Homo sapiens: one gene and its partners. The protein of the gene in region 3 interacts with the protein of the main gene of each other region in a pairwise test. Each region holds a gene or a part of one and is shown on either strand. Other genes may lie near its edges. The genes, in order: ZNF597, IL36RN and IRAK4.

Region 1 (6,920 bases), on a different chromosome or scaffold from region 3:
AGGCGGCTGTAGTCCCAGCTACTCGGGAGGCTGAGGCAGGAGAATGGCGTGAACCTGGGAGGCGCGGTTTGCAGTGAGCAGAGATCGTGCCACTGCACTCCAGCCTGGGCAACAGAGCGAGAGTCTGTCTCAAAAAAAAAAAATCATCTCATATTTTAAAACTTTTTCTCTCACACAATTATCACCTCCACATAAATTACTGAGGGACAGGTCCCACTCCACCATACCAACATCTGGATAAAGCATGAAGTTCTCCTCCTAGAATTGACAAAAGTTCCAGATGCAGGAAAAACAATTGCCTTACCCATCAAAGCCGCATCCTCCAAAGACTCTTTTGTACCATCTTTGCTGAGGGACCTCTGGGCAGGGTGCAGAGTCACGCACTCCTCTTGAGAAAAATACACAGCCAGATCCTCAAAGAGTATTGGTCCCTGAAACACAAGAGCCTGTGTCAGCACAAGAGGGTGGAGGGTCAGCCCCTCACTTAACCTAGGAAGGATGAAAAGAGCTAGAAACATCAGATGCACGGGATAAAAGGCTCGGTGTAAAAGGTTCTTGAGCGCAGAAGTAGGGCAAATGGGTTCTAAGGGGTGGGGTGAGGGTTGGGAAGAAGAGAGTAAACATGGACATACATTTTTAGGCAGTGGTACAAGGACGGTGGACTGTGAGAATTATTGTCTATCTTGAAAGAGAAAAGATGAGGGAATGGCTCTTAGGGAGGCAACCATTAAGTGAGGATGCTCTAAGAAAAGGAGAGGTTTGGGGCCGGGTGTGGTGGCTCATGCCTGTAATCCCAACACTTTGGGAGTCTGAGGGGGATGCAGATGACTTGAGGTCAGGTGTTCGAGACCAGCCTGGCCAATATGGTGAAACCCTGTCTCTACTAAAATTACAAAAATTAAGGCTGGGCACAGTGGCTCACGCCTGTAACCCCAGCACTTTGGAAGGTGGAGGCGAGTGGATCACCTGAGGTCAGGAGTTCAAGACCAGCCTGACCAACATGGTGAAATTCTGTCTGCACTAAATACAAAAAATTAGCCAGGTGTGGTGGCGCATGCCTATAATCCCAGCTACTTGGGAGGCTGAGGCAGGAGAATCATTTGAACCTAGGAGAAAGAGGTTGCAGTAAGCCGAGATTGCACCATTGCACTCCAGCCTGGGCAACAAGAGTAAAACTCCGTCTCAAGCAGAGCTTGCAGTGAGCTGAGATCGTGCCACTGCACTCCAGCCTGGGCAACAGAGCGACACTCCATCTCAAAAACAAAAACAAAAACAAAACAACAACAAAAAAAACTCTGTCTCAAAAAATAAATTAAAATAAAATGAAATTAGCCAGATGTGGTGGCATGCGCCTGTAGTCCCAGCTACTTGGGAGGCTGGGCCAGGAGAATCGTTTGAATCCAGGAGGCAGAGATTGCAGTGAGCCGAGATCGCGCCATTGCACTCCAGCCTAGGCGTCGCAGCGAGACTGTCTCAAAAAAAAAAAAAAAAAGAAAAGAAAAGGAGAAAGTTGGGCAGCCCAGGAAGAATCATAAAGAGATAAAGGTTACAGGATTCTCCCAACATCCTTCCCTTTGCTATTTCCTCTCGTCCCCATGACACTCATTGCTAAGCTCACTCCAGCACTTCATCCAGGCCTACCCCACCTTCTCTAACGGTGTGATAAATTAATCACTTGGGATTTATTATTACTCAACGAGTGTGGAGTCTAGAAATGTGCTTAATTTAAAAATTCATTCAAATTGGAGAAGTACCAAATCTGTAATTTTGGGAACCATTCCAGAAAGTCACTTTTAATCCTAGCACTTTGGGGAGCCGAGGTGGGAGGATAGCTGAAGGCCAGGAGTTCCTTGGCAAAGCAGCAAGACTCCATCTCCATAAAGAAGTTTTAGGCCGGGCGCAGTGGCTCACACCTGTAATTCCAGCACTTTGGGAGACCGAGGCGGGCGGATCACAAGGTCAGGAGATTGAGACCATCCTGGCTAACACGGTGAAACCCCGTCTCTACTAAAAATACAAAAAATTAGCAGGGCGTGGCGGCAGGCGCCTGTAGTCCCATCTACTCGGGAGGCTGAGGCAGGAGAATGGCATGAACCCGGGAGGCGGAGCTTGCAGTGAGCCGAGATCGCGCCACTGCACTCCAGCCTGGGCGACAGAGCGAGACTCTGTATCAAAAAAAAAAAAAAAAGAACTTTTAAAAGTAGCCAGACACTGTGGTATGCGCGCCTCTCAGATACTCGAGAGGCTGAGGCGTAAGGATTCCCTGAGTTCCAGACGGAGCTATGATATCAGCACTGCACTCCAGCCAGACAAGCAACACTCCAGCGACAAGGCCAGACCCTATCTCCAAACAAAACAAAACAAACAGATAAGACATTGAGAAACTCTCTCAGAGATTCCTCCACAGGTCCCTGCTCCCAGTTGGTAGTTCTGAAAGAAGGAAGTTGGTAAACCATTATGTGTGTGGTCTTGGAACGAAGAACACTTGGTCAAAGGGCTATTTGGGGCTCAGGAGCACTCCTACCACAACAGGCATGCCCAACTCTCCTCCAAAGGAGGGGGTCAGGCAGAGACCGAAAGCAGCAATAAACTTGGACGAAAAAGGTACCTCGACTCACCTGGGCCTCGGGCGTCGGGGGCATGGACGCCATTTGGCGGGTGGGGAATGCCTTCTTCAAGACGCCACAGGGACTTCGTGACAAAGCTGCGGGGGGAGAGAACAGTTCTTAAAGGGACCAATTCCGCTGCCAAGTTCCTCCACTACCCCTAGCCTCCCTCGATTCCCTCCGAACCCCCCCTTAAAAACCTACGCCGACTGCTCCTCCTCTTGGCCCGGCCTCGAAAGGGGCCCACTTACCGCTCCGCGGTTAATAACAGGCCTCGCGCTCCCTGACAGGAGCTGCAGAAAGCGACGCCCGACCGAGACGCGACGAAGAACGCCACGGCCACTGCAAAACTCCCACGCTCTCATGCTCCTTTACGCAGGAGCTGCGGGAAAAGCCGCCGGAAGCGACCCGCCCTCAGCCCTCTCCGCCATCCTGCCCTTTGATTGGTCGAAGTTCTCCCGAAGGGGAAGTCCTTCTTTTGTGTTGACCAATTGAACACCTTAACCGAGGACCTGTAGCCACTGGGCAGCTGCGAGAGGTAGTTTTCCTCCTTTTCTCTAAGCAACCATTTCCGCTTCCGCTGGCGGGGTCTCCTCCGTGAGCTCCGGGCCTGTTTGCCTGCTGAAGTAGAGTCTTAGGGTGACCCCAGGGGGACGTAATGTTTCCGAGAAGAAGGACAGAAAGAAGACTGGGAGACACCGGAACTCGAAAGAAAATCGGTAACAAAATGTGGGTTCGGCCAACAGTGCCCTGTAGGCCTGAAATTTCGGTCTGGCCAGAGCAAGGTGATTGAGAGGGCGGGGGTTCGGGCCTAGCCTGGGCTTGAGCTGTCCTTTGTGTCTTGAGCGGATGGTGGGGCCGTGGAACATGAAGGAGTATCTTTGTGTACGTTCACAACGTTCACATCGGTGTAGGCCAGGTTGCTGGACTCTGACTCAAAGTGTTATAGAGGCATTACGTATTGTACCCGCAGCTGCAGCCTAAGCGAGCTGCTTCAGCTTCCTAGTCACAGGATCCCACGCGAGAATAGAGCCATAGGTTAGCGTCGCAGGACGTTGTTCGCCCCCGGATACCTCACATGCAGCCTACCCTAGAGCCAGTCATTTCCTATTGTGTGCTGGGGGAGGAGGGAGTGCCCTGGTGTAGGCATTTGGAATTGGAAAATTGAGCTCCTCCCCAAGCTCTGCCACTGATTGGTTGGTAATCTTGGCCAGTTTACAACTTTGCTTTCCTCAGCTGCAAACAGCTCAGAGTGCCTCTCTGGGCTAACTCAGAGGGTAATTTCAAAGATTATAAGATAATGTAAGTGAAAGAAATTGCCAGTTTATAAAGGTGTTTGGGGAAAAAAAAAGACGAAAATGATAGGTACCTTGATAGAAAAGCCTGAAAAGTCTCAACATATTTCCTTATTCCAGTGCCAGGCACATTCCTGTATCTAAAAGCTTAATGAATGGCTGCATGGTTATTAAAACAATATTAGGAGATTTGACAACTTAGGTAATGTGATTTTGTGGAATATCTGATAGGATAGTTTCAGCTACAAGTAACAGAAAACCCACCGAAAGGATGTTCAAAGAGCAGTTACAGGTTGGTTAATTCGGTGGCCCAGTGACAACATCAAGGTCCCAGTGCTTCTCTGCCACCCTAAGCATGTTGGTAACGTTGACAATAGAATCCAGGTAAAATATACAGACATGTATTGTGTCATGTACCCATCCTAAACTAGTTATTACCAAGAATAAATAATTGTTTGGGGCCCATCATGCTTCAGCCCCTGTCACTAGGGGAAGGACCTAGCCTCCCTTGATAATCTACCTGCACAAAATTAGGGCTTTGTTACAAATGAAAAAAAGAGATGTGGAAAATAAGTTAGATAAGAAACTAGCAGTATCTGCCACAAATGATATCTCTTGACAGCTAACTAAGAGCTAGACCTTGTGGGGATGGATCACAAAAGAGGTAGCTGTGAAGTCCCAGTAAAGGTGCTTCCAGGACAGGTGGAAGAATGGTAAGAACAAACTTGCCTACAGGCTAGACCAGTCCAAAGCATATATGTTGAAGAAGAGCTAATAGCCTGTATATGAAGGTGTAAGTAAAGGAGATGTTCATGGTTGAGTCACTGTGGTGTTCACGTAGTCATCTTTCCCTTCTTGGTTTGTGCTTATCTCTTTTTTTTTTTTTTTTTTGAGACAGTCTCACTCTGTAGCCAGACTGGGGTGCAGTGGCACAATCCTGACTCACTGCAACCTCTGCCTCCGGGGTTCAAATGATTCTCCTGCCTAAGCCTCCTGAGTAGCTGGGACTACAGGTGCCCGCCACCACGTCCGGCTAATTTTTTTTTTTTGTATTTTTAGTAGAGATGGGGTTTCATCATGTTGGCCAGGATGGTCTCGATCTCGTGACCTCATGATCCACCTCGGCTTCCCAAAGTGCTGGGATTACAAGCGTGAGCCACCGCGCCCCGCCTATTTAATGCTATTCTTACATCAGCACTGTCTCATTGTGGTCTGAGATTCTCCTTATCTGGATTTGTGGCTCTTTCACCAAGAACAAGAGACTCCCGTGGCTCTCTTCTTTAAATCCTGTTGCCATAATTACAAAGAAATAAACACAGTTTCCAATGCTTTGAAATGAAGCATGTGGTATTAACTCAGTGGATTACCAGAGAGAGAGGGATATACCTGAAATGGGAGAGGAAAAAATCTTCCCTAGACTATCTTTCCTAAGAGCCATCAAAACTATAAACAAGTGGACAAAGAAGGAGGAAGCTTGAAAGCTTTATCTTCCTGAAAATAAAGAGATGACATACAAAGTCCAAGATAGACCAAGATTGAAAAATTAGACCACATTATATCCCTAACTCAATTTTGTAAAAAATCACAAATGCTTGACTGTATACCCACTATATGTTCAAGTAACATGTTTTAATCATCAAAATTTAAAAATCCTTCCACGACAATCTTTTGCAAGTTTTTCCATTTCTGTCTTTAACATGGTACCAGTAATAACAACTACAACCTGTTTGTATTGAAATTATTTCTATAGCCCAGCATCTGCTTTCTCTGAAAATTATCTTTTTAAAAATAGTAAAACTAACATCATTACAAAAGTAGTATATGTGCATTTCAGAAAGTTAGGAAAGGCTGGGTGCGGTGGCTCACGCCTGTAATCCCAGCATTTTGTGAGGCTGAGGTGGGCAGATCACAAGGTCAGGAGATCGAGACCATCCTGGCTAACACGATGAAACCCCATCTATACTAAAAATACAAAAAATTAGCCAGGCGTGGTAGCGGGCACCTGTAGTCCCAGCTACTCGGGAGGCTGAGGCAGGAGAATGGCGTGAACCTGGGAGGCGGAGCTTGCAGTGAGCCGAGATCACACCACTGCACTCCAGCCTGGGTGACAGAGTGAGACTCTGTCTGAAAAAAAAAAAAAAAAGAAAATACAGGGGAAAAAATGGCAACACATTCCTGTCACCCAGAGATCACCACTATTTACTCTTTATTATTTGTTTTTTTTTTTTTGAGACAGTCTCACTGTTGCCCAGGCTGGAGAGCAGTGGTGCGATCTCTGCTCACTGCAACTTCCGCCTCCTGGGTTCAAGTGATTCTTGTGCCTCAGCTACCAGAGTAGATGAGATGATGGGCAGATGCCACCACAACCATTTAATTTTTGTATTTTTAGTAGAGATGCAGTTTTGCCATGTTGGCCAGGCTGGTCTCAAACTCCTGGCCTCAAGTGATCCGCCCATGTCAGCCTCCCAAAGTGCTGGGATTACAGGTATGAGCCACCGCACCTGGCCTGCTCACTGCAACCTCCATCTCCCAGGTTCAAGCAATTCTTCTGGCTCAGCCTCCCGAGTAGCTGGGACTATAGGTGCGTACCACCACACCTGGCGAATTTTTGTATTTTTAGTAGAGGACGGGTTTTCCCCATATTGGCCAGGCTGGTCTCGAACTCCTGACCTTGTGATCTGCCCGCCTTGGCCTCCCAAAGTGCTGGGATTACAGGCGTGAGCCCCTGCCCCCGGCCCCTATTCTTAAGTATATATCTTTTCCCTAGTGATTTTTATGATGATGCAGCTGTATATTGAAACGGAAAGATACTCATTTTTGGGAGTAAAATTGGTTATGAAACAAAAACAATAACAAAGTTGCTTTTGAAGACTATGCGTTAAAATGGTAGTGGTAGTTATATTTTTAATTTTTATGGGTACATAGTAGGTGTATATATTTATGTGGTACATGAAATATTTTGATGCAGGCATGCAATGTGTAATCACTTCAAGGTAAATGGGGTATCTTCCCTGGCGAT
Region 2 (7,362 bases), on a different chromosome or scaffold from region 3:
TGTCTGTGGCTTTTCCAGGCACACAGCATAAGCTGTTGGTGGATCTACCATTCTGGGATCTGGAGGACAGTGGCCCTCTTCTCACAGTTCCACTAGACAATGCCCCAGTGGGGACATTGTGTGGGGGCTCCCACCCCACATTTCCCTTCTGCACTGCCCTAGCAGAGGTTCTCCATGAGGGCTATGCCCATGCAGCACACCTCTGCTTGGACATTTAGACATTTCCAAACATCCTATGAAATCTAGGCGGAGGCTCCCAAACCTCAGTTCTTCACTTTTGTGCACCCACAGGCTCAACACCACATGGAAGCTGCCAAGGGTTGGGATTTACACCCTCTAAAGCCATGACCCAAGCTGTACCTTTGCCCTCTTTAGCCAAAGCTGGAGTGGCTGGGATGCAAGTCATCCCAAGTCCTGAGACTACACAAAGCTGCCAGGCCCTGGGTCTGGCCCATGAAACCATTTTTTCCTCCTGGACCTCCAGGTCTGTGATGGGAGGGGCTTCTGTGAAGACCTCTGATATGCCCTGGAGACACTTTCCCCATTTTCTTGGTGAAAAACATTTGGCTCCTCTTTCCTTATGCAAATTTCTGCAGCCAGCTCGAATTTCTCTTCAGAAAATAGGTTTTTCTTATCTCATCTTCATGCTGCATGTTTTCCAAACTTTTATGCTCTGCTTCCCTTTTAAATGTAGGTTCCAATTCCAAACCATATATTTGTGAATACATAAAACTGAATGTTATCAGCACCCAAATCACCTCTTGAATACTTTGCTGCTTAGAAATTTCTTTTGCCAGATGCCCTAAATCATCTCTTTCAAGTTCAAAGTTCCACAGATTTCTAGGTCAGGGGCAAAATGCTGCCAGTCTCTTTGCTAAAGCATAACAAGAGTCACCTTTGCTTCAGTTCCCAACAAGTTCCTCATCTCCATCTGAGACCACCTCAGCCTGGACCTTATTGTCCATATCACTATCAGCATTTTGGTCAAAGCTATTCAGTGAGTCTCCAGGAAGTTGCAAACTTTCCCACATCCTCCTATCTTCTTCTGAGCCCTCCAAACTGTTCCAACCTCTGCCTTTTACCCAGTTCCAAATTGCTGGGTAACAGGCAAAGTGTTAAAGTGCTGAAATGCCAATAGTGATGTCAAGGTGTGTTAGTTACCAATTGTTGTGTAACAAAGTATCAGCAAAGTTAGCAGCTTAAAACAAGAAAAAATTATTATTTAACAAAGGCTGAGAGTCAGGAATGAGAAAACTGGCTTGGCTGGAGGGTTTGGCTCAGGGTGTCTCATTAGGTTACAGGAAAGATGTCAGCCAGGGTTGCAGTCATCTGAAGGCTTGACTGGGGCTAGAGGATCTGCTTCTAAGATTGTGCATTCACAGACTGTTGGCAGGAAAAAATAGTTTCTCACCACGTGGGCCTCTCCATAGGGCTGCTTGAGTGTCCTTATCACATAGTGGCTGGCTTTGTCCAGGTGAGTGATCTAAGAGCTAGGAGGAAATTGCAATGCCTTTTATGATGCTGCCATGTTCATCATGTAACATAGCGCCCCACTCCCAGTATCAATTTACTATATCAGTCTGTTCTCATGCTGCTAATAACAACATAACCAAGACTGTGTAATTTATAAAGGAAAGAGGTTGAATTGACTTAGAGTTCCACATGGCTGGGGAGGCCTCACAATCATGGTGGAAGATGATGAAAGAAGAGCAAAGTCATGTCTTACATAGTGGCAGGCAGGAGAGCTTGTGTGGGGAAATTCCCCTGTATAAAACCATCAGATCTTGTGAGACTTATTCACTATCATGAGACCAGCACAAGAAAGACCTGCCCCCATGATTCAATTACCTCCCACTGGGTTCCTTCCATGACACGTGGGAATTATAGAAGCTACAATTCAAGATGAAATTTGGGTGGGAACAGAGCCAAACCATATCACCTTCTTAAAGATGAAGTTTCCAAGAATTTATGGACATATTTTAAAACAGCCACACATGGTTTGCGAATTGGCAGCATTGTCTTTAGGTAGTGCCAAAGTTTATTTTTCAGAAGTTCAAAACTTGACTCTCATACACACATATAGTGAGCATGTGTCAAAGATTTACTATTTTTCATAAGTGAGGGAATCAGCAAGATTATAAAGCTGATTATCAAAAGATAATTCAGGGAATGGAGGCTTATACCGTCAGTCAAGAAATAAAGGCTGAAATAGGTTGGCTAAGTTACGTTTTAAAGACAGCTTTATGACTTGTGAGGCAATAAAACTGCACCCTTTGGAGTTATCTTTTCTATCAGACAGGAATAATGTGTAATTTATCAATGTTCTCTTAGTTCATGGCTAATTTCACAGAGTCTGAGACCTAATTAGTAAGTCAAGCAAAGGGATAGGTCCAGAGAGAACTTATTGTTGGTGAGGCCTGTTTGATAATGTTTTCATATAATATTGACAGTATACACAGTCATAGTTTCATTTTACTTATTATTTATTTATTTATTGAGGCAGAGTCTAGCTCTCTCTGTCATCCAGGCTGGAGTACAGTGGCTCAATCTTGGCTCACTGCAACCTCCACCTCCCAGGTTCAAGCAATTCTCACACCTCAGCCTCCTGAGTAGCTTGGATTACAAATGTGCACCACCAACCCGGCTAATTTTTGTGTTTTCAGTAGAGATGGGGTTTTGCCACGTTGGCCAGGCTTGTCTCATTTCATCTTATTTCTACTGTCATTCCATTTGGTCAATTTGTAATTTAATAATTTTGTACAAGGCAGTTTCTACATTAATTTTATTTTTCTGAAAAGTGTCTATCATATTAGTGGCATTATGAAAATCGTAGATTATTTTCTGTGTTTTGAACAACTTGATATTTTATTTATTCTTGAACACTTGTAGGACCTCTTGGCTCATATGTCTGAATACCATTTCTTTAAAATGTACGCTTTAACATGTACACATATGTAACAAACCTGCACATTGTACACATGTATCCTAAAACTTAAAGTATAATAATAATAATAAAAGAAAAAAGAAAAATAAAACTTAAAAAAAAAGTGTATGCTTTAACAATAAATTATTAATAAATAGTTATCTGTGTTATTCAAGATATAATTAAATTGTTTTTTGTGCACTGACCCTTACCTTTATTTCAGATCCATCACAGAGAGTGCATGGAGGTATTTAAACTGCATTAACTGTTTCACAATTAAGTATTATCTTATCAATTAGGTATTCAAGAAAGATCACTTACAGAATTATAGATGGCATGAGCTAGATTTTACTTTCTAAAGAAATAACCAGATACATGAGCAAAGATGTTAATACAAAGATGTTTGTCACAACATGGTTTTCAATAGCAAAAAAAGAGAGAAAAATATATAAAAGACAAATAACAGTGGATAGGTTTCAATAAATAATGTTACAGTGATACAGTTAAATACTATACAGCTATTGAAGCATGTCATTATTCATATTTAGTATGGAAAGATATTTTGCTATTTTGCCACATGAAAAAATGAGGTTGGAAAAAGTATAGGTTTTGTGAATCTGTTGTATGAAAGCTGTCTATAGTTACATGTGTATGTGTGTGGAGGAAATAGTGTTGTCATTGGTTTTCTGATGATGCACTCAGAAAAGACAAGTATTCACATTTTTTCTTGTGGCTGATCTGGATTTTCAGGTTTTTCTACAATGAACATGTAGGCTGAACATTCCCTAAGCAGGAGAGTCCCACCTCTAACATCTCCTGTAGGCCTGGCAATGGCAGGCAGGAAAGACAGAGGAAGGAAGGAGGGAGAAGGGAAGGAGTGAAGGAAGGAGTGAAAAAGGTAAGGAAGAAAGGGAATAGGGGAGGAAGGGAGGAAATGGGAAGGGAAAGAAGGAAAGGAAGGAAAGAGGGAGGGAAGAAAGGAAGGGAAAAGGGAGGGAGTGAGTGAATGAAAGATGGAAAGAAGGAAGAAAGGGAGGGAGGCAGGGAGGAAAGAAAGTCGCGCTTCCCTTGAGCTGCCATGGGCACTGACTCTTAGGGTCTGAAAGCCCCTGAGATGCAAAAGCCTAGTGCTCACAAAGAGCTGGAAAGCCTCAAGGAAGTTCTTCAATATTTCTGGAAGGAAACTGTCTCCAGAAGCTTCCCTCCCCACGACAGATAATGAGCAGCAAGTGCTTCTGGCGACTTAGGGTGATGTGAAATCACGCTGGGAATCCTGCTCCTCCTCAGGTCCTGGCAGTTTCAGGGCCCCTCCCTAGGCCTTACTTAAAAGGCTGAGGCATCCTTGGAGGAACAGGCAGACTCCACAGCTCCCGCCAGGAGAAAGGAACATTCTGAGGTATGCTCTGGGGCGCTGGTGGTACCGGAGCTCTCTCCTGACCCCAGACCCAGAATCTGCTCCGTGGAGGCTGTTCACATGCTGGGGAGCTCGGTGCAGCTGCTTGCTCCCCAGACCCCAGCCAACTCAGCCTCTCTCTCCATGATTTTCTGTTGTTTATTCCAAAATAGGGGAGTCTACACCCTGTGGAGCTCAAGATGGTCCTGAGTGGGGCGCTGTGCTTCCGGTGAGTGTATGAGGCCCTGGTTTGGTGGTGTCCTCCGGAGGAAGTGAGTTCTGGATAGACCCGTTGTCCAGCTCTGAGCAGGAGGGAGGAAGGGAGGGGCTGCCATTGCAGCTGGGAAATTGTGACCAGCACCTCACTGCTCTTAGAGTTTTCCCAGCCTTTTTCAAATAGGGGCAGGACTGGGGCAGGCCATCTCACAAGGGGTCCCTGATGCTGAGGGGGATAAGTGAACCTCCCAGTCTAGAGCTCCAGCCAAGTCTATCCAAGGTGGGAACGGGGGCCAGGATCCCTGCTCAGAGCTCCGCCATTGTCCCCCATCACAGTGAATGGATGTAAGCTCACCCACTCTGTGCCCCTGCCTCCCTGCTACTCTTTGGGGATAATAATAAAACAAAAACCATTACCATCAGTCAGTCTGTCCACCCACTGGCATGTACCAAGCCAGACACTCTGCCGTGTTCTGGGCTTTACAACAGAGGATGAGAGTGGTCCTTTCTCTCAGTCTAATAAAGCACTTCCCATGATGTGTTCTATGGGACTCGATTAGAGGAGTCCCACAGAGGCATCCAGGAGATGCTTTACACAGTGGAGCTCTCTGATCAAGTAAATGCAGGGAATTCTGCTTTCTACATCCTCTCATAAGAGAACCACAGCCCAGCTCAGCATATGAGTGACTCTGAGGTTTTCTGAAGTAAGGCAACTTGTTGAATTGTATTTAGCCATGCATCGACCCAATTTTTACACTGCATCCTTTTCCCCCATATAACTTTTGGAGAAACCCACTTTAGGATACATCTTCCACCTCATAGGATGCCAGGAAATCAACTGAGTTCAAAGATGAGAAACAACTTTGAAAAGTTAAATAAAAGAAATTTAAATTTAAAGAAACTCCTCACTTAGTAAGGAATATATGACCAAATAGAAATACATGTATCTTGAAGAATTGAAGAATCAGGCTTTAACGTGGAAGAGGCCTGGATGTTATCCAACCCATCATCTTAGTGTAGCAATGGGGAGGCTCAGGCCCAGAGTGGGCGAGAGAGTTGTCTCCTGCGACTCAGCAGCATTGGAGGCAGAGATGGGGCAAGAACCTAGGGCTCTGACTCACCGTGCAGCTTCTCTTCCAGCAGGAGATGGGTTGGGGCAGAAAAGGTTGAATAGGGTGAAGGAGCAAACCACAGACTCCAGTGGGAGACTGTGGGGTCATCCTCCTTGTAGGGCATGAGCCCAGCAGGGCTGGGAGACAAGGCTGTGCTGTTACTTCTGGCACAGTAGGAAGAAAGAGAGACAAAATGCCTGAGATCAGGGGGTTCTCTGGATCCAGGGCATGCTGGAGTGTCCACCCTCCTCCTAATGTAGTCCTCACCCCTTCCTGATGTTTCAGAATGAAGGACTCGGCATTGAAGGTGCTTTATCTGCATAATAACCAGCTTCTAGCTGGAGGGCTGCATGCAGGGAAGGTCATTAAAGGTTGGTGATGAAACATGACCCACTTTCCTTGGTCTCTATACACTCTCAGGGGAGGGGGCCTGAAGAGGGCTTAGAATAGTCATACAGATTAGCATAGGCCTACAGAGCCCAGGCATTGGGGCAGCACAAACCAGGCTCTAAGCAAAGGCAAATAAAATACTACACCTCTCAGCAAAGTGAAGACACAGGCTCTGGGGCCACCTGAAGCTTCTATGCAGAAGTGGGAATGTTTTCCAAGAGGCTTGTCTTGTCATTCCCTTACAGGTAGATTTAGGTCAAGCATTGCATTCCCTGGGAGCCAGTAAGTACCAAGGAGAGAACTAACGTAGATTCTCTATACCTTTTTTCCCATATGGGAGTGGGTTTCTGCCTCTCCACCCTGGGTCCCCTCTGCTCTCTGAAGATCCTCAGTCACTTAGAGTGGAGGGACCCAGAGAACAGGTGGCATTGTTGGACCTCCTGCTTGCTCACTCTGCCCCATGCACTGCAACACGTCCCTCTCTAAAATAGTTTGCACCTGCCCACCTGGGGCACCCTTGCTGAGCACAGATGCCAGGTAGATCCTTCAGCTAGGCCATATGTGTATGTGTGTGCTTACTGGTGTATGTATGTGTGCATGCAGGCATATATGTGTGAGCATGTGTGCATGCATGTATCTGTGTGTAACCATGTATGTGTGAGTGCAGGTATGTAGGTATGAGCATGTGTGTGTATATGTATATGTGTGCATGCATGTATCTGTGTATGTATGTATCTGATGTATGTGGGTGGTGAGGGGATGTACAGAGAGGAATGAGACCCTCTTTTGCTCTCAGCAACATCACAGGGTGTAGAAAGTTGTCCAAACAATTCCAAAGGGGGGCTTATCAAGACAGGGTTCAGAAAAAGGCCTGAGACCCAAGGGACATTAAAGGAGGGGGTTGAATCTATTTTGGGGTGTAGAGGCTTGAAGATTTGACCCTGAACTAGAGGGTGGAGTGGAGGTGGTACAATGTGCTTCCATGCCTTGATGTCCACTCTGAGCCAGTGGACAGGAGAAGCCATGTCATGACAGCTGCTGAGAAGCCTCCCTTCTGCCCAGCCTGGGGGCAGGCCGTCTTACAGCAGTCCTGTGCCCTAGAGCCCAGGACAGGGGAAGAAGGAGGGAAAGGCATCCAGGGCCCTGCATCTGGCCTCTTTCCCACAGGTGAAGAGATCAGCGTGGTCCCCAATCGGTGGCTGGATGCCAGCCTGTCCCCCGTCATCCTGGGTGTCCAGGGTGGAAGCCAGTGCCTGTCATGTGGGGTGGGGCAGGAGCCGACTCTAACACTAGAGGTGAGACTTGGGGCATCCTCACTGGGGACTCAG
Region 3 (7,939 bases):
AGTACACTTAGGATTAACACAGGTGGAACAGGATATGTTGCTTACAAATAAGTAAATACCTTCATGACTGTTTCCTCATACCACTAACTCTCATAGTAAAGAAAACCCATTCATATTTTCAAGTAAGACAATTCAGACAAGTGTAAAAGGTGGGGTGGTGATTGAGAAATATATTAAAATAAGCACCTGCTTATGGAATCCAATGCCTTCCCAAAGTACTGTGCCCAAAACAGGAGGGCAAAAGATTCTTGTCAAATGTGTTAATAAAGTTTTAAGACTGCTTCATTAGCACTTTGATCAGAGGAAAAGATTGTGCAGGGGTGGAGGGAAGATGAACTTTGAGGTTGCACAGGCCTAAGTTCTAACCAAAGCCAACTGTGACCAGAGCTAGTAAATACATTTCTCTGCACCTTGCTTTTCTTTATCTGAAAAACAGAGATAGTAATACCTAAGAATTGCTGTAAGAATTAAAATCAACACATGCAAAGGGCCAAATCTTGTCACATAATAATAGGTGGTCAAAAAAAAAAAGGAGCAATTATTATTTCCTGGCAGAAATTATTCTTATATCACATTATTTTTAAAGATATGTGCAGACTGTATTTAGGTTCAATTTCCAGAACAGTAGTGAGGATCTACTGAAAGCGTACAAATAACAAGTCTGAGAAAATAGCTAAGCTTTTGAGATGGTGGCTGTCTTATTTGATCAACCATGGTAATTTTAATGTATTTATATCCTTTCTAAAATACACTATTTACTTCCATATATTCTTAGCAAAATATGCTGTATAACCATTAATCTTTATTTTTAGATACTTTAACATCATCATTATGAACAAAAGCTGGTGAGGGCTTCCAGAGCTATTAAATTAGATAGGGCTGCCTATTACAAACTGGGATATGTGCTGGTGTACCATAAATTAAACTTAACATATCTTTCTTGAACATTGATCCAACACAACAGTAAGTAATTGAAAATGCTTTGCATATATTTAAAAAACAAAATATAATACCATTGACTCACCAAATATTTACTGAGTGTCTACTTTGTGCTAGATACTGCTCCAGGCCCCTGGAGATGAAGCATTAGGAAAATTAGAGAAAAAAAACAAAACAAAACCAAAACCTGAATTCATGGAGTTTATATTCTAATGGAGGAAGGAAGGCAATAAGCAAATAAATAAACTCTATAGTATGTTAGATGGTGCCAAGTGAAATGAAAGAACAAAACGAAATAGAGAAAAGGTTGTAATTATAAATATGGTAGTCACAGGAAGCCTCAATAAGAAGGTGCCATTTGATTAAAGGTCAAAAAGAAGGAGAAAGCCAGCCACTGGACTATCTGTGGGAAAAGTTTGTGGACAAAACGAAATGTAAATGCAAAGGTTGGAACTGGGCCCACTGGGCAACAGCAAGGACATGGTGAGACTGCAGAGGAGGGAACAGGCAAGTAGCAGATGAGGTCAGAAAGGTAAAGGGGCCAGGTCTTCAAGGGCCTTAGAGTTTTTGTATTGACTTTGTTTATCCTCTGGGTGAGATGTAGATGCTGGAAGTTTTGAGAAAAGAGACATGCTCTGTACTCATGTCTTAGAAGGATACTGGGGCTGCTGGGAATAAAGGATGTTGGAGTAAGGACAGAGAAGCAAGAAAGAAGCATTTAGGAGAGCCTACCAATAAGCCAGGTGGGACGTGCTGCAGGCTGGGACCAGGGTCGTAGCAGAGCAAGTGCAGAAGTCCTAGGATTCTGAGGTGGAGCCAATAGAAAGCTATGGGCTGATGTGGAGAGTGAGAAGACAGCATAACCAAGTTTACCGATATTTACTGAGATAGAGAAGGCTGAGGAAGGAGCAAGTTTGGCCTGGAATATCAGAAGCTCAGTTTGGAGAGGTAGAAAGCAAACTTCAAATGAACGCTCTGCAGGAAAACAGAAGAAATTTGAACTTCCCGATAGCCCTCTTCAAGGACCACTCCAAGAAAGGGAAAAGGCAGATTTTAGTATCCTCTGCTTACCAGGGGCCTTGGGCAGTTACGTTTTTGAAGCACTAATAGCGCCGTTTGTTCCCATTCTAAATGCTCAAAGTGCTTTCTCGCTTTCTCAGGGTTTGCTTTTTTTTTTTTTTTTTTCTTTTGAGACGGAGTCTCCCTCTGTTGCCCAGGCTGGAGTGTAGTGGCACGATCTCGGCTCACTGCAACCTCTGCCTCCTGGGTTCAAGCGATTCTCCTGCCTCAGCCCCCGGAGTAGCTGGCATTACGGGCGCCCGCCACTATGCCAGCTAAATTTTGTATCTTAGTAGAGACAGGGGTTTCACCATGTTGGCCAGGCTGGTCTCGAACTCCTGACCTCAAGCGATCCGCCCGCCTGGGCCTCCCAAAGTGCTGGGATTACAAGCATGAGCCACCGCACCTGGACAGGGTTTGCTTTTATCCCTTTGTCTCCCTCTGGCTTCCAAGCTGACAGGTACACTTTTTTCCCCCATCTGCGAATGTACTCATCTGATCCCATAAGCCGCCTCCACTTTCTAATTCCCTGGAAGCTTGGAGGCCGGAGAAACAAGCGAATTACAATCGTGTGGAGGCTCAGCGAGCTGCTGGCGCCACAGGCATCTGTCAGGTGCTGGCCTGACTTCCTGGTTCTGGGGAAAAGAGACTTCATTTCGCAGTCGGGTTCACGGAATCCAGGGCCTGAGAGGTGAGAAACTTGAGGTCCGACTGCGCCCCAGAACAGCTGGGTGACGTCCCTCCAAGCCTCAGGCTCTTCCTCAGGGCCGACGAACTTCTTGATTACCGGGGACCTACCCAAGTCTTTCTTCTGGAGTAAGCTCTGTCAAAGGAACCCACTTCCTCTCTAACTTTTCTCACGGATGATAAAGAGATTTCCGTTCCGCAGCCGACCCCAGCAACCCTGGGGCAGAGGTGCCGAGGCCTGGAAGCGGACCTCGGACGACGTTTGACCGAGGCATTAAGGCGGGGAATGCCTTACCTGCCCGGGCGCGGGCTGCTGAAGCCGGCGACAGAAGAACCAGCCGAACTAGGAAGCGCCGCGAAGGGGCGGGGCCTGCCGGGTTGGCCCCGCCCCACTTCCCCGATGGGCTTCATCTTGGCGCCTCCAGGCGGCTCCACAAAGTGAGAAACTCCACGTATTGCGTAGGGCGCGTCTTTACGTGGGCGCCTGCCCCTTTAATTACGCCCCTGTCGGAGGCTGAAACACTTAAGGCTTCCGGGCATGCGCACAGCGTTGTGCAAATGAATGCCTTCCACTGAACCGAGGTAGACGGGGTCGAGTTTCTTGCGCGATGGTGGGCTTGTATGTGTGTGTGTGTGTGTGTGTGTGGGGGGGGGGGGTGACGAGGTTGGCATTGAGGATCCATACCCTTTGCGCCCAAAGAAAGGTGACGTGGACTAGTGTCGTGCCTTTGGACAGGCAGAGTAAGAGGAGGGAGAAGAAACAGGTAGAGCTGCTGGCCTTGTCGGGGACACCTTTGGACGTGCTGGAGGGCAACGACGCCCTAGTTTTCTGTGAAGTTAAGTAGCTTCTGCAGGACTGGGTTCAGTATTTCTAGTACCTTCTCAGGATCCCTCCTCCGCCAACGAATTCCTCAACCACGGGCCAAGCAAACTACTCCCCCGCCCACTGTCAGCAGCAGTCTCTGTTGAATGGGAATACTGCACCTTCAGGCTTAACGCCACGTGGGCTCCTTTGCTGTCCTCCAGGTCAGTTCCACTCTTCTACCAGGATGCTGGAATTACATTCTCCCCAAGTTTCCCTACCTGTTTCACTTGCTTAGAATGTCTGTCTTCCTCCTTTTTTCTGGGAGAAAGAAAAGATCATTATTCTTTCAGGGCCAATCCCTACAGCTATGTTCTTGACCATGCTGTTTTGTTTTTGAACTCCTCTAACTGTTACTCCATCGGATACATCTTGCTCATTTCCATCAGAATCATCTTACAATTCCAAAAGCATGTTTTGGAATTGTGTCACTTTTCTACTCAAACACTAACAGTAGCCATCCATTGACCACCCAATAGATTCTAAGTCCTTGTCAGGGCATTCAACATCTTCCATAATCTGGTACTAACTCAGCTACATTTTCCAGCACTGTAGTCTCCCTGCATTCCCATCCCCACTGCTCTGTATCTGGACTGCTTGTTTTTCTTGCACACATTGCATGTTTTGTTTGTACATTACTTGTGAGGTCTCTGCCTCATTTCTATCTCTTGAACTATGGAGGACTTAGATGGCCACTTCTTGCATTATGCCTCTTCTAATTATCTTCCACTTCATTCCTACAGCTCTTATTTTGTACTAGTTATTTCATTTATTTAACAATAGTATTTATTGCAGACCTACCATGTGCTTGACACTGTTCAAAATGTGTGATCATCAGTAGTAAATAAGGCAGACAAGGTTACTCCTCACGTGGAACTAACATTCTCTTTGGAGGAGATATACAATAAATAATAAAGAAAAACTTTACCTAGAACTGCTATGCAGAAAATTAAATAGGGTTTTGTGAAAGAGAATCACTTGCTGGGCACGGTGGCTCACGCCTGTAACCCCAGCACTTTGGGAGGCCGAGGCGGGTGGATCACGAGGTCAGGAGTTCAAGACCACCCTGGCCAATATGGTGAAACCCCATCTCTACTAAAAAAATACAAGAATTAGCCGGGCGTGGTGGCGCGCCCCTGTGGTCCCAGCTACTCGGGAGGCTGAAGTAGGAGAATCGCTCGAACTCGGGAGGCGGAGGTTGCAGTGAGCCGAGATCATGCCACTGCACTCCAGCCTGGACGACAGAGTGAGACTTCGTCTCAAAAAAAAAGAGAATCACTTGCAGGTTCCTGTAGATTATTGGTCAGGAAAAACTTCTCTGAGGAAATGAATCCTAAAAGATGCAGCTATATGATTGGGGAGGGAACAATTTAAACAACAGGAACAGTTAGCACAAAACTATTGAAGAAGGCCAGAGTAGCTGGAGTATAGTGGGTAATGGGGTAAAGGTACAAATGAGTTTGGAGAATAAGCAGGGTCCCTAATCTTAGATGTCCTTGGAAGCCAGGGTGAGTAATTTGGATTTTATTGCAAATGTGACTAGAGGGTTTTAAACTGGATTGTGATATGATTTAATTTACCTTTTAAGACCATTCTGGCTGGTTTGTGGGCTAGTTATAGAAGCAGGAGTTAGGGACCTTCACAATATCTAAAAGTTTTTGGAATGGAAGTATTAAAGTTGGTGTGATAAAGGACATTGGGAGTCATAAGAATCAGATGCTTAAGGTTAATGCAGTTTTTGGAGATGAGAAAGTCAAAGTTATGACCGTGACAGTGGATGACCAAGATGAAGTAGAGGTGTGAGGTTGAGGTTGAGATTGAGGACTTGAGGGTCCAAGACATTGAATGGATGATCCATATAGATGATCATAAAAATCATGTTGGATAAGAAGGTAGTGAGCCAGAGATCAGTGAATGAAGCAGAGTTGTCTGGGGATCCGAGAGAGGATGACAGCAGATGGTAAAGCCCAATGGCAGGCTCTTCAAAAGAATTGGGGTTTTTGGAGGTAGTAGAGGAAGAAATGGCTTGCAACGAACAGTGACAAACATAGACCAATATTTACAGCCTCCAGGTCCTAAGGTAGATGGGTGGGAAAGAAAAAATAGCCTTTACTTGAGAGGACTGAAGAAGAAGCAGCCTGAAGAAATAGCCAGATTTCAATTAGGGCAAGAAAGTGAGGGAACTGTACAGGAAATTAAGTAATTAAGGAAAGTAAGTATATCTTATATATTCCTTAGGAAATTAGGATATGGAGAATTTGTAGTGATTTCTATATGGCATGATGGAAAGGATTGAGAAGGTGTGATTTGCTAAATTGGTTCAGATTAGTAGAATACATTATAGGTATGAGATGATGGTCCAGATGATGATAAGTTACTTGGAGAATGTGGGGGAAACACAGAACTCACTAGTATGGGGCCCCTGGGCAATTTATCTTTCCTGCAGCTCCATATGGTATGGTAGCCATGGGTTTGTGTGAAAAGTGAGAGATCAGAGTACTATTCTCTTGCATAGTGTTTCCAGGAAGCTCTGTAAGGGTTTCTTCTGTCTGATGCCAATGATATAGTTAGAACTTTCCTCTGGCTCAACCTTGAAAGCTTCTATTTGTCCTAATGGGGGCATTAGAGAAGGCCCAGGACTGACTTAATCCTACCTTGAAATATAATCAAATCACAAATTTGTATTTAGAACTTCATTTACCCATCAGTTTTCCTATTGTCTTTTTGTCACCTCTCCTGTCACTAACCACTAATAATATAAGAAAACTTAGCCACATGTTCTCTGGAATTAGCTGGAAATTTTAGGCTCCAGGAATGGAATTTGGACAAATCTTTGTTTTATAGTCCTGTGTTCTCACCTCTTCTTGTGAGCCTACAAATGATATTTTTAAGATAAAATTGACTCATTTTAATCCTGGATAATAGGTACAAATCTGGAGTGAGTGAAGATACAAGTTAACAAATCTTTAGCTATACCAGAAATAGTTTGCCTATTAATTCAGCTTGGTATAGGAGAGTCAAAGTACACAGGAAGTACATATAGTTATAAATTAAGTTAATGATACCATTTAAGAAGACTCAGAATTAAAAGAGAGACAGAATTAACTAAATCCTGCAAACCTATTCCTATTTGGTCATCCATAACTTCTCTTTCTGTTAACTAACCACCTCTTTGTTTTGTTTTCTAGGCACTGTTATAGAAGAATGGAAGAAGATACAGATTATAGAATCAGGTTTAGTTCTTTGTGTTTCTTTAATGATCACGTTGGATTTCATGGCACTATAAAAAGCTCACCAAGTGACTTTATTGTTATTGAAATTGATGAACAGGGACAGTTAGTTAATAAGACCATCGATGAGCCTATTTTCAAGATTAGTGAAATACAACTTGAGCCAAATAATTTTCCCAAAAAACCAAAACTAGATCTTCAAAATCTGTCCTTAGAAGATGGAAGAAACCAAGAAGTTCATACTTTGATTAAGTACACTGATGGTGACCAAAATCATCAGTCTGGTTCAGAAAAGGAAGATACTATCGTTGATGGAACTTCCAAATGTGAAGAAAAAGCTGATGTTTTAAGCTCCTTTTTGGATGAAAAAACTCATGAGTTACTGAATAATTTTGCCTGTGATGTAAGAGAGAAGTGGCTTTCTAAAACAGAGCTAATTGGACTACCTCCTGAATTCTCAATAGGCAGAATCCTTGACAAAAACCAGAGGGCTAGTTTACACAGTGCCATTAGGCAGAAATTTCCATTTTTAGTAACTGTAGGAAAAAACAGTGAAATTGTTGTAAAACCAAATCTTGAATATAAAGAACTTTGTCATTTGGTATCTGAAGAGGAAGCATTTGACTTTTTTAAATATTTGGATGCAAAGAAAGAAAATTCCAAATTTACCTTTAAACCTGATACAAACAAAGACCACAGAAAAGCTGTCCACCATTTTGTCAACAAAAAGTTTGGAAACCTTGTGGAAACCAAATCTTTTTCTAAAATGAATTGCAGTGCTGGTAATCCGAATGTGGTGGTAACAGTAAGATTTCGGGAAAAAGCACACAAACGTGGGAAAAGGCCTCTTTCTGAATGCCAAGAAGGAAAAGTTATATATACAGGTAATTTAATAAATCATCATCCATTTTCTTGGATAAGCTTAGCTAAATTTAAAATTGTGAAAATGAATTGAACAGACTTGGCTAGAGAGATTGGAAAGAATATATGATTTACCTTTAGGGAGAGGAATTGCTGATAAGCAATTTAAGCAACTCTAGGAATTCTTATTTATTCTGTTACTTACTAGAAGATGATAAAACCTTTTAAATTACACTGAATTTAAAAATTAGCCTTACTGATAACCTAGGCATTTATATTAGCCTATTCACAAATGTATAAA

Evidence for each region.
Region 1: the proteins of IRAK4 (region 3) and ZNF597 interact in binary tests that used the Homo sapiens proteins (3 or more experiments, as listed by UniProt).
Region 2: the proteins of IRAK4 (region 3) and IL36RN interact in binary tests that used the Homo sapiens proteins (3 or more experiments, as listed by UniProt).

The regions. Positions count from the first base shown.
Region 1 is NC_000016.10:3,440,503-3,447,422, forward strand, and holds the start of ZNF597 (zinc finger protein 597), read right to left. Parts: upstream 3,003-6,920; 5' UTR 2,858-3,002; intron 2,705-2,857; 5' UTR 2,652-2,704; coding exon 2,619-2,651; intron 432-2,618; coding exon 305-431; intron 1-304. Other genes in the region: NAA60 (N-alpha-acetyltransferase 60), read left to right, coding at 3,265-3,325. UniProt on the Homo sapiens protein: May be involved in transcriptional regulation.
Region 2 is NC_000002.12:113,054,923-113,062,284, forward strand, and holds the start of IL36RN (interleukin-36 receptor antagonist protein), read left to right. Parts: upstream 1-4,275; 5' UTR 4,276-4,319; intron 4,320-4,489; 5' UTR 4,490-4,516; coding exon 4,517-4,545; intron 4,546-5,929; coding exon 5,930-6,015; intron 6,016-7,201; coding exon 7,202-7,329; intron 7,330-7,362. UniProt on the Homo sapiens protein: Inhibits the activity of interleukin-36 (IL36A,IL36B and IL36G) by binding to receptor IL1RL2 and preventing its association with the coreceptor IL1RAP for signaling.
Region 3 is NC_000012.12:43,754,058-43,761,996, reverse strand, and holds the start of IRAK4 (interleukin-1 receptor-associated kinase 4), read right to left. Parts: upstream 3,047-7,939; 5' UTR 2,981-3,046; exon of another isoform or gene 2,011-2,980; intron 1,073-2,010; exon of another isoform or gene 1,025-1,072; intron 1-1,024. Other genes in the region: pseudouridylate synthase PUS7L, read left to right, coding at 3,294-3,304, 6,736-7,661.